3 linked regions of the Homo sapiens genome follow. The protein of the gene in region 1 purifies or fractionates together with the protein of each later gene. This does not show direct contact. Each region holds a gene or a part of one and is shown in the gene's direction. Other genes may lie near its edges. The genes, in order: SLC25A16, ALDH7A1 and ACO2.

Region 1 (3,500 bases):
TTAATTTTATTAATAAACAACCTTAATGGTTCTAGTATCATGTAATGTTTAACAAGCACTACCTGCATACTATTTTTATCAGATTCTACGTGTTTTGTGAATTAACATAAACGCTTCTCTCATGGTCACAATTCTTCCTTGAAGACAAACTTAGACACTTAGTTAAAATAAAAATGCTTTTTCACTTCTTAATTTTTGCCTGTATCTTACATTATCACCATCACTGTTTTTTTGTTTTGTTTTGTTTTGTGTTTGAGACAGAGTTTCGCTCTTGTTGCCCAGGCTGGAGTGCAATGGCGTGATCTCAGCTCACCGCAAACTCCGCCTCCTGGGTTCAAATGATTCTCCTGCCTCAGCCTCCCGAGTAGCTGGGATTACAGGCATGCGCCACCACACCCGACTAATTTTGTATTTTTAGTAGAGATGGGATTTCTCTATGTTTGTCAGGCTGATCTCGAACGCCTGACCTCAGGTAATCCGCCCACCTCAGCCTCCCAAATTGTTGGGATTACAGGTGTGAGCCACCACGCCCGGCCATCATTGTTATTTTAAATGTTAAGTTGTCACATTTCCTTGTAATTAATAATCATGAATTTAATTTTTCTCATGTGAAACCTTGGAAAACTTTGTTTTTTTTCCACATATAAAGTGGCATTATATTCACTATAGCCTCCTTCAGTGCAGTAAACTTCAGTGGTGCATGAAAACCAAAGCTATAATTTTTTATTGGTGGTAATTTTGTCATCTTTAGGTTATTTATGTACACAAATCTTTCTATTTTAAATTAAGCCAAACACCAGAAATTAGGAAATGTGTTTATTATTTAAGAATGGTGTCTTTTTCACAGCTCATGTTATGTTAAGCATCATGGTGAATTTATTTTTTGTTTTTCAGGTGTTTCATTTTTTACTTTTGGTACCTTGAAGAGTGTTGGGCTTTCCCATGCTCCTACCCTTCTTGGCAGACCTTCATCAGACAATCCTAATGTCTTAGTTTTGAAAACTCATGTAAACTTACTTTGTGGTGGTGTTGCTGGAGCAATAGCGCAGACAATATCGTAAGTTTCTTCACTAACTTAATTTAATCAAATTATAGTTACCCAGTCCTGATTTTCAGCATTGTTTAATCATTTATTTTTTCTAATAGATTATTCAAAAAGAGGATCCTTGCAAAATATAGGTCTCAATTTAATACATTTTTTCAGATGTGTGTGCACTTTAAGCATATTATAAATAATTACATGTTTGGATGCAGTAGTGCTGCCTATTGTCCCAGCTACTTGGGAGACTGTGGCAGGAGGATTGCTTGAGCCCAGGAGTTTGAGGCCAGTCTGGGAGACATAGTGAGACCTTGCCCCTAAGAAAAAAAGAAAGAGGGTGGGCGCGGTGACTCACGTCTGTAATCCCAGCAGTTTGGGAGGCTTAGGCGGGTGGATCACAAGGTCAAGAGATTGAGACCATCTGGCCAACATGGTGAAAACCCGTCTTTACTAAAAACACAAAAATTAGCCGGGTGTGGTGGCAGCCACCTGTAATCCCAGCTACTCGGGAGGTTGAGGCAGAGAATTGCTTGAACCTGGGAGGTGGAGGTTGCAGTGAGCCAAGATTGCGTCACTGCACTCCAGCCTGGGCGACAGAGTGAGACTCCATCTCAAAAAAAAAAGAGAGATTGCATTTGTATATTGTGTATTTAATTTCAGGCAGTTATCTGTATTATTAGTTTTAGCCCTTATGGAAAATTTTGTATTGGTCTACTGTATTCAAGGGGACTTGCTGCATAGCATTAGAGCAGTTCTCTACTGGGGTTGATTTTACCACCAGTGGACATTTGTTAATGTCTGGAGACATTTTTGGTTGTCACAGCTGGGAGAGTGCTACTGGCATCTAGTGGGAAGAGGTCAGGGATGTGCTTAAACATCTCTAGTGCACAGGACAGTTCCCCACAACAAAGGATGATCCAACCGAAAATGTCAGTAGTGCCAGTGTTGGAAACTGTATATTAGTGTTCAACAATGAAAAGCAACCAGTTTGTTTCTTCAGGAACTGGCATTTAATTTGACCTTTAGGAATGAACAGAACTTGATATTACGGTGATGGGAGAGAAGAATCCTCTAATCAGAGGGATCACATAAGCAAAGACTTCTGTATTGTTAATTGATTTTATTCATATGCCTATATCCCGACTCCTAGGTTAGACAGAACAATAAGAGCAGTAACACGTTATTTCTTTGAATTTATAGGGCTTTGTATTCAATAGTTGTTGAGTAGAAAACCAAAAATTTTTAATTCTTTATGCCTTTTTCTTCTTTTAGCTACCCATTTGATGTGACTCGTCGGCGAATGCAATTAGGAACTGTTCTGCCGGAATTTGAAAAGTGCCTGTAAGTTCATCATATGTCATTGTTCATTTTCTTTAGGAAATGTAACATTAAACTCAGTAAGGAGATAGGACTCTAGTTTGACCAATAGTCTGTATCTTCCGTTTTATCTCCCGAAGTTTATTTTGGTAACTTTATAAGATTACAATCAGGCAATCAGGTTCTTTTTTTTTTTTTTTTTTTTTTTTTTGAGATGCAGTCTTACTCTGTCACCCGGGCTGGAGTGCAGTGGCATGGTCTTGGCTAACTGTAACCTCCGCCTCCTGGGTTCAAGTGATTCTTTTGCCTCGGTCTTCCAAGCAGCTGGGATTACAGACACCCACCACCATGACTGGCTAATTTTTTGTATTTTTAGTAGAAATAAGGTTTCACCATGTTGGCCAGGCTAGTCTTGAACTCCTGACCTCAAGTGATCTGCCTGCCTGCCTGGTCTATAATCAGGTTCTAATCCTCCTGTTAAAAATTTAATTTAGGGCCAGGCACGATAGCTCGTGCCTGTAATCCTAGCACTTTGGGAATCCGAGGAGGGCGTATCACCTGAGGTCAGGAGTTTGAGACCAGCCTGGCCAACATGATGAAACCCCATCTGTACTAAAAATACAAAAATTAGCCAGATGTGGTGTCGGGCGCCTGTAATCCCATCTACTAGGGAGGTGGAGGTTGCAGTGAGCCAATTTGGCGACAGAGTGAGACTCCATCTCAATAAAAAAAACAAAAACAAACTAAAAAAAACAAAGAAAATATTAAATTTAGGCTAGTTGTGGTAGCTCATGCCTGTAATCCGAGCAATTTGGGGGGCCAAGGTGGGAGGATCACTTGAGCTCAGGAGTCCAAGACCAGCCCAGGCAACACAGTGAGACCTTGTCTCTATAAAAAAAAATATTATTTTAGAGGTTGTGTTTTTTTTTTTTTTTTGTTTTGTTTTTTTGAGACAAAGTCTCACTCTTGTCCCCCAGGCTGGAGTGCAATGGCATGAACTCAGCTCACTGCAACCTCCCCCTTCCGGGTTCAAGCGATTCTCCTGCCTCAGCCTCCCGAGTACCTGGGATTACAGGTACCTGCCACCACGCCTGGCTAATTTTTGTATTTTTAGGAGAGACGGGGTTTCACCACGTTGGCAAGG
Region 2 (3,728 bases), on another chromosome or scaffold:
TTTGGTAGAGATGGGGTTTCCCATGTTAGCCAGGCTGGTCTCTAACTCCTGGCCTCAAGTGATCCACCCACCCTGGCCTCCTAAGGTGTTGGGATTACAGGCATGAACCACCACACTTGGCTCTGTTTGTTTTTGTGACAGGGTCTTGCTCTGCCACCTAGGCTGGAGTGCAGTGGTGCACGATCTCAGCTCACTGCACCCTCTTCCTCCTGGACTAAAGCAATCCTCCCACCTCAGGCTCCTGCGTCTTGCTCTGTTGCCCAGGCTGGAGTGCAGTGGCGTGATCTCAGCTCACTGCAACCTCGCCTCCCAGGTTCAAGCGATTCTCCTGTCTCAGCCTCCCGAGTAGCTGGGATTACAGGCACCCATTACCATGCCCAGCTAATTTTTGTATTTTTAGTAGAGAAGGGGTTTCACCATGTTGGCCAGGCTGGTCTGGAACTTCTGACTTCGTGATCCACTGTCCTTGGCCTCCCAAAGTGCTGGGATTACAGGCGTGAGCCACCGTGCCCAGCCAGAAATACACGTTTTAAAGAATGACAACAATGCTTGCTTTGGCAGCACATATACTAAAATTGGAAAGATACAGAGAAGATTAGCATGGCTTATGCACAATGATGATATGCAAATTCATATCCGTATTTTAAAAAGTATTCCATATTTTAAAAAAAGACAGCAGAAAATGCATGGGACATTTCTGGAAGGACATAGAAGAAACGGAGTCATGGTTGCTTTTGAATTGGGTCCTTAATATTTGTATGGAAAGGAAAATTCCTTTTCAAGTACAGTAGGAGACTTTGTATTCAGAGCAATTATAATCTATTTATTGGTTATTTTAAAAAGTCAGTTAAGGCAAGGAATAAAAAAATACATATCATAAGCATTAAAAAAGAAATTAACACATATTGCCAGGTGCAGTGGCTCACACCTGCAATCTCAGCACTTTGGGAGGCTGTGGTGGGAGGATTGCTTGAGGCCAGGAATTCAAGACCCACCTGGACAACATAGTGAGACCCTGTCTCAAAAAAAAATTAGCTGAGTATGGTGGCATGCACATGTAGTGCTAGCTACTTGGGAGGCTGAGGTGGGAGGATTGCTTGAGCCCACAAGTTCGAGGCTGCAATGAGTCATGATGATGTCACTGCACTGCAGCTTGGACAACAAAGCAAGACCAAATCAAAAACAAAAAACCAAATAATAAAAAAAAAAAATCAAAAACAAAAAACCCCCCACATATAAAGATTTGTTTGTGGCCGGGCATGTTGACTCACACCTGTAATCCCAGCACTCTGGGAGGCTGAGGCAGGTGGATCACTTGAGGTCAGAAGTTCAAGACCAGCCTGGCCAAAATGGTGAAACCTGGTCTCTACTAAAAATACAAAAAAAATTTAGCTGGGCATGGTGGTGCATGCCTGTAGTCCCAGTTACTTGGGAGGCTGAGGTGGGAGGATGGCTTGAACCCGGGAGACGGAGGTTGCAGTGAGCTGAGATCAAGCCATTGCACTACAGGCTGAGTGAAAATAACCGCTTGCAGCAGTGTTTGTTCAACATAACTTGGTTGTGTCACATGGCATGGCTCTCTATCCCTGCCTGACTCCTTATTTCCATTTTTCTCTGACCAACTAAGTTAGAACCAATATCAGGAAGAGAGAATTTTCTTTCATGATTGGAAGTTATTTTGGAGAAATAATTCACCTATAAATGATGCTAATTTTTTTCTTTATAAATGTAGGCAAAGATTGCATCCTCTGACCCCAAGTCCTAGAAAACAAAATGCTTTCATTCTTTTTATTTCATTTCTCTGCATTAGGTTATGGATCGCCCTGGAAATTATGTAGAACCGACAATTGTGACAGGTCTTGGCCACGATGCGTCCATTGCACACACAGAGACTTTTGCTCCGATTCTCTATGTCTTTAAATTCAAGGTAAAAATGCATTCTGTTCGCTAGCCTGATGTTGAAATAAATGATAAGAGGAAAATGATGGTGGATTAAATTTCACTGGATGAACCTTTAAGAGGGTTTTAGAAAGTAATCTGAATAGTAGATATATGAAGGTTCAGGATAAAATATGAGATAAACACTTTAAAACTCTATAGCATGCCAAGCTAGCTGCCAGGGAAACCAGATTGGGTAGTGGACCAGTGTTGGAGTTTATGAAGTGTGTGGTCCTCATTTCCTGTGTCATCTTAATCCTGGGCTGTGTAGGCCATAGAGTCACCTTCTCCTGAACCGTGGTACTGGATAGTTTGATAGCCTGAGTGCTGTGAACATGTCAGCAGACAAAATGAGAACATGTGGGGGTAATACAAAGACCTATAGTTGGCCAGGCACGGTGGCTCACACCTGTAATCCCAGCACTTTGGGAGGGTGAGGCAGGCAGATCACCTGAGGTCAGGAGTTCGAGACCAGCCTGGCCAACATGGTGAAACCCCGTCTCTACTAAAAAACAAAAAAATTAGCCAGGCGTGGTGTTGGGCGCCTGTAATCTGTAATACCAGCTACCTGAGAGGCTGAGGCAGGAGAATCACTTGAACCCAGGAGGCTGAGGTTGCAGTGAGCCGAGATCGCACCATTGCACTCCAGCCTGGGCAACAGAGTGAGACTCCATCTCAAAAAAAAAAAAGACCTATAGTTATAAACTCCAGCAGAGGACAGGCTGCGGAGTTTTGTTTTGTTTTCCCTGATCTCATATCTTGATCTCAAACTGTAAAGGTTTTAATAGGTGAAGAAGCTGGGCACAATGGCTCATGCTTGTAATCTCAGTGCTTTGGGAGGATCACTTGAGGCCAGGTGCTCAAGACCAGCCTGACCAACACAGTGAGACCTTGTCTGTACAAAAAAATTAAAAAATTAGCCAGGTGTTGTATGTACCTATAGTCCTAGCTACTCGGGAGGCTGAGGTGGGAAGAGATCCTGTCTCTAAAACAAACAAATAAATAAAACCCAAAAAACCCACACAGGTGGATAAATTAGAAGATCTCATTCCCTAGCTTGAGACGGGCCCTAGCCTCGCCAGTAAATATTTAGGATTAATTTTGAGACTGCAGAGATTGAATCAATATTTGAATGTACCATTATTAACAGTAAAATAATAGTGAGAATTGCATCTTGTTGCAATTACATCATTGCTTCTTTATTTCTTGCTTTAAATTGCCTATCATTGTTTCACGTATGGGGACTAGAGAATATAATTTTGTGTTTTGTAATGTGTTTGTGTACATTATGAGGCTGTGTGAGCTCTTGAGCAAATTAGTCTCTGTAGGCCTCAGTTGCCCAATCTGTAAATTGGGAGGTAGTAGGAAACCTGTGTTATAGGATGAGGATTAAATAACTAAATGCATGTTAAGTGCTTAGATTGGTGTGTTACACACGTAAGAGCTCAATAGATATTAGCTATTATATGTAGTAGCTTGAATGAAAGGAAGAATGTGTTAATATTTGTTTCTGATAATTAGGGGAAAAATCCCAAAATTTTTTACTTATTATCAATGATCTGAATTATAAGAGAAACAGAGTGAGTAAACTTGACTCTTTGGTTTCCTTTTGTACACTGAAATTATACTGGTACACTTCAGGAAATGAGTTTAATGTCAGTGAACTTTGACTTGAACACTATAACATCTTACAGCTTCCAATGTCTCTCCTTTTAGAATGAAGAAGAGGTCTTTGCATGGAATAATGAAGTAAAACAGGGACTTTCAAGTAGCATCTTTACCAAAGATCT
Region 3 (3,728 bases), on another chromosome or scaffold:
CGTTTTCCCAGCACCTGGTTTGGAAGGCAGTGGTGGGCTCTGGGCCTCTCAGCATGAAGGAAGGAAGGTATTGTAGAGAGACTTCTTGTAGCCTTTAAAAAGCAGCAAATGGGCCGGACGTGGTGGCTCACGCCTGTAATCCCAGCACTTTGGGAGGCTGAGGTGGGTGGATCACAAGCTCAGGAGTTCGAGACCAGCCTGGCCAATATGGTGAAACCCCATCTTTACTAAAAATACAAAAAAAAAATTAGCCAGTCGTGGTGGCGCATGCCTGTGATCCCAGCTACTCAGGAGGCTGAGGCAGGAGAATCAGCTGAACCCAGGAGGTGGAGGTTGCAGTGAGCCGAGATCGCGCCACTGCACTCCAGCCTGGGCAACAGGGTGAAACTCTGTCTCAAAAAAAAAAAAAAAAGCAGCAGATGGACCCTCAGGAGCCTTAGGAGACTTCTGCCACTGGCTTACTGGGTAGCTTCGGGCAAAGTCTCAACTCTCTGTGGTCCTGCAGTTAGTTACACATCTGCAAAACAGTGTAATTAATAACTACCCTTCAGTTAAGAAGGGTTCTGAAGGCCTAATATTTGAAAAGTTGTTTTGACTCTGTTTGATGTGTTATAAAGCATTGTGAGCCGGGTGTGGTGCCTCATGCCTGTAATCCCAGCACTTTGGGAGCCCAAGGCAGGTGGATCACCTGAGGTCAGGAGCTCAAGACCAGCCTGACCAACATGGTGAAACCCCGTCTGTACTTAAAATACAAAATTAGTCAGGTGTGGTGGCGCATGCCTGTAATCTCAGTTACTTTGTGGGCTAAGACAGGAGAATCGTTTGAACCTGGGAGGCGGAGGTTGTACTGAGTTAAGATTGTGCCATTGCACTCCAGCCTGGGCAACAAGAATGAAACTCTGTCTTAAAAAAAAAAAAAAAAAAGGCCAGACGCAGTGGCTCACACCTGTAATCCCAGCATTTTGGGAGGCCAAGGCAGGCAGATCACCTGAGGTCAGGAGTTTGAGACCAGCCTGACCAACATGGTGAAACTCCATCTCTACTAAAAATAGAAAAAAATTAGCTGGGTGTGTGGGTGGTCGCCTGTAGACCCAGCTACTCGGGAGGCTGAGGTACGAGAATCGCTTGAACCTGGGAGGCAGAGCTTGCAATGAGCCGAGATTGCGCCACTGTACTCCAGCTTGGGCAACAGAGCGAGACTCTGTCTCAAAAACAAAACAAAACAAAAAAACAAAAAAACACACACACTGCAAATAGTTTCTGATATTATTTTAGGAATAGGCCATTTCTAAGATTGAGAGTAGGGACAGATTTTCCCCTTGTAGAATATCTTCATTTTGGAAGTCTTGAAAGGTAGGGAGAATGGGCCAGGCATGGTAGCTCACGGCTGTAATCCCAGGACTTTGGGAGGCCGAGGTGGGTGGATCACTTGGGGTCAGGAGTTCAAGACCAGCCTGGCCAACATGGTGAAACTCTGTCTCTACTAAAATACAAAAAATTAACTGGGCATGGTGGCGTGTACCTGTAATCCCATTTACTTGGGAGACTGAGGCAGGAGAATCAGGTTCAAGCGAGTCTCCTGCCTCAGCCTCCCAAGTAAATTAAAGGTAGGGAGAATGGTTTCCATATTATTTATTTATTTATTTATTTATTTATTTATTTATTTTTTTGAGACGGAGTCTGGCTCTGTCTCCCAGGCTGGAGTGCAGTGGCGCGATCTCCACTCAGTTCAAGCTCCGCCTCCCGGGTTCACGCCATTCTCCTGCCTCAGCCTCCTGCGTAGCTGGGACTACAGGCACCCGCCACCACGCCCAGCTAATTTTTTGTATTTTTTTTTTTAGTAGAGATGGGGTTTCACGGTGTTAGCCAGGATGGTCTCAATCTCCTGACCTTGTGATCCACCTGCCTCGGCCTCCCAAAGTGCTGGGATTACAGGCGTGAGCCACCGCACCCGACCTCTTTAGTTTTATTCTGCAGCACCTGGGCCAGAGGAAGGGGCACCAGCTTTGGAGCCAGGCCTGGAATTCCACCTTGCTGCGTGACCCTGGGCAAAACAGTTAGCATTCCAGAGCTTCAGTTTCCTCATCCATTAAATGGGCACAATGCCTTCTGCCTCACAGGGTAGTCGTGGGATTGTGTGGATAAAGTACTTGGGGCAAATCCAGTGCAGGGTAGAGGCACTTGGTGAATATTCATTTCTGTCTCCAGCCCCTGCAGATGGCCCGCGGCATCCATCACCCCAGCCTTTATCCTTAGCTCATACGTTTAAAAAAGACCAGTTGTGGCCGGGCACAGTGGCTCACGCCTGTAATCCCAGCACTTTGGGAGGCCGAGATGGGTGGATCACGAGGTCAGGAGTTTGAGAACAGTGTGGCCAATGTAGTGAAACCCCGTCTCTACTAAAAATACAGATATGAGCCGGGCATGGTGGTGTGCGCCTGTAGTCCCAGCTACTTGGGAGGCTGAGGCAGAAGAATCGCTTGAACTCAGGAAGCAGAGGATGCAGTGAGCCGAGATCACGCTGCTGCACTCCAGCCTGGGCAACAGAGCGAGACTCTGTCTCAAAAAAAAAACCAAACCAGTTGTGAAAATTGCTTGTTCCTCCCATCATCTCCCCAGATAGCAGGTAAGTGGTAGTTGTTCAAGGAAACCTTTTTTTCAAGATAGAGTCTCGCTCTGTTGCTCAGTCTGGATGCAGTGGCATGATCTCACTGCAACCTCCACCTCCTGGGTTCAAGCAGTTCTTTTGCCCCAGCCTCCCAAGTAGCTGGGATCACAGGCACGCACCACCATGCCCAGCTAATTTTTGTATTTTTTGTTTTAGTAGAGACAGGGTCTCACCCTGTTGGCAAAGCTGGTCTCCAACTCCTGACCTCAAGTGGTCCAGCTGCCCCAGCTTCCCAAAATATTGAGATTACAGGCGTGAGCCACTGCGCCTGGCCAAGAAAACCCTTTCAATACTGTTTTAAAAGAGTTGGGGGAAGAGGTAGAAATGAATCTTTTGGTTTAGTTTTTTAATTCTCTAAGGACAACATTGGGGAAGTGAGCTTTAGAGTTATATTTGCAGTATTTATTTTTATCATGAAATATTCAAGTCTAGGCCCTTGGTGAATTGAGGCCTGGTGAGTATTTCTGCTTTCCCCCTGGAGAGATTGAGATGGTTTCTGATTGGGAGCTTTAATTCTGTGGGCATTTGTGGGACTTACCAAAGAGGTATCTAGAGTTCCTTTAAAACCCCCGCCCTGTCCCTGCCACATATCTTCTTTTTTTTTTTTTTTTTTTTGAGAAGGAGTCTCACTCTGTAGCCCAAGCTGGAGTGCAGTGAGTGACACGATCTCTGCTCACTGCAACCTTTGCCTCTGGGGCTCAAGCAATTCTCCTGCCTCAGCCTCCCAAGTAGCTGGGACCAGAGGCATGCGCCACCACACCTGGTTAATTTTCTTGTATGCCACACTTCTTTAGTTCCTTGTAGCCGGGCTCCTTGACCTTCTGCAGGGCATCTGTGGTTGTGGTATTTATAAGCACTCACTGTGTCATGAGTGTGTTCACAGAGCTCTAAGACAAGGGCCCTGTCTGTGGAAGAGCTTTTAGGGTGGTGAGGGAGAAGTCATCTAAATAGCTATAATACACGGTACTGAAGCAAGGAGTAGGTGGGGGAATTTGCTGGGTGGGACTAAGTACAGCCTCAGCCACCCGTCCTGGAACATGGATGTAGTGGTGGTGTGTTT

The links.
Region 2: the proteins of SLC25A16 (region 1) and ALDH7A1 purify together in Homo sapiens (affinity purification with mass spectrometry; one large-scale study listed by BioGRID and IntAct). This does not show direct contact.
Region 3: the proteins of SLC25A16 (region 1) and ACO2 purify together in Homo sapiens (affinity purification with mass spectrometry; one large-scale study listed by BioGRID and IntAct). This does not show direct contact.

What each region holds. Positions count from the first base shown.
Region 1 is NC_000010.11:68,486,024-68,489,523, reverse strand, and holds part of SLC25A16 (solute carrier family 25 member 16), read left to right. Parts: intron 1-894; coding exon 895-1,057; intron 1,058-2,311; coding exon 2,312-2,380; coding exon of another isoform or gene 2,381-2,384; exon of another isoform or gene 2,385-2,450; intron 2,451-3,500. UniProt on the Homo sapiens protein: May be involved in the transport of coenzyme A in the mitochondrial matrix. Very little is known about the physiological function of this carrier.
Region 2 is NC_000005.10:126,550,220-126,553,947, reverse strand, and holds part of ALDH7A1 (alpha-aminoadipic semialdehyde dehydrogenase isoform 1 precursor), read left to right. Parts: intron 1-549; exon of another isoform or gene 550-646; intron 647-1,810; coding exon 1,811-1,927; intron 1,928-3,654; coding exon 3,655-3,728.
Region 3 is NC_000022.11:41,475,502-41,479,229, forward strand, and holds part of ACO2 (aconitate hydratase, mitochondrial precursor), read left to right. Parts: intron 1-3,728. UniProt on the Homo sapiens protein: Catalyzes the isomerization of citrate to isocitrate via cis-aconitate.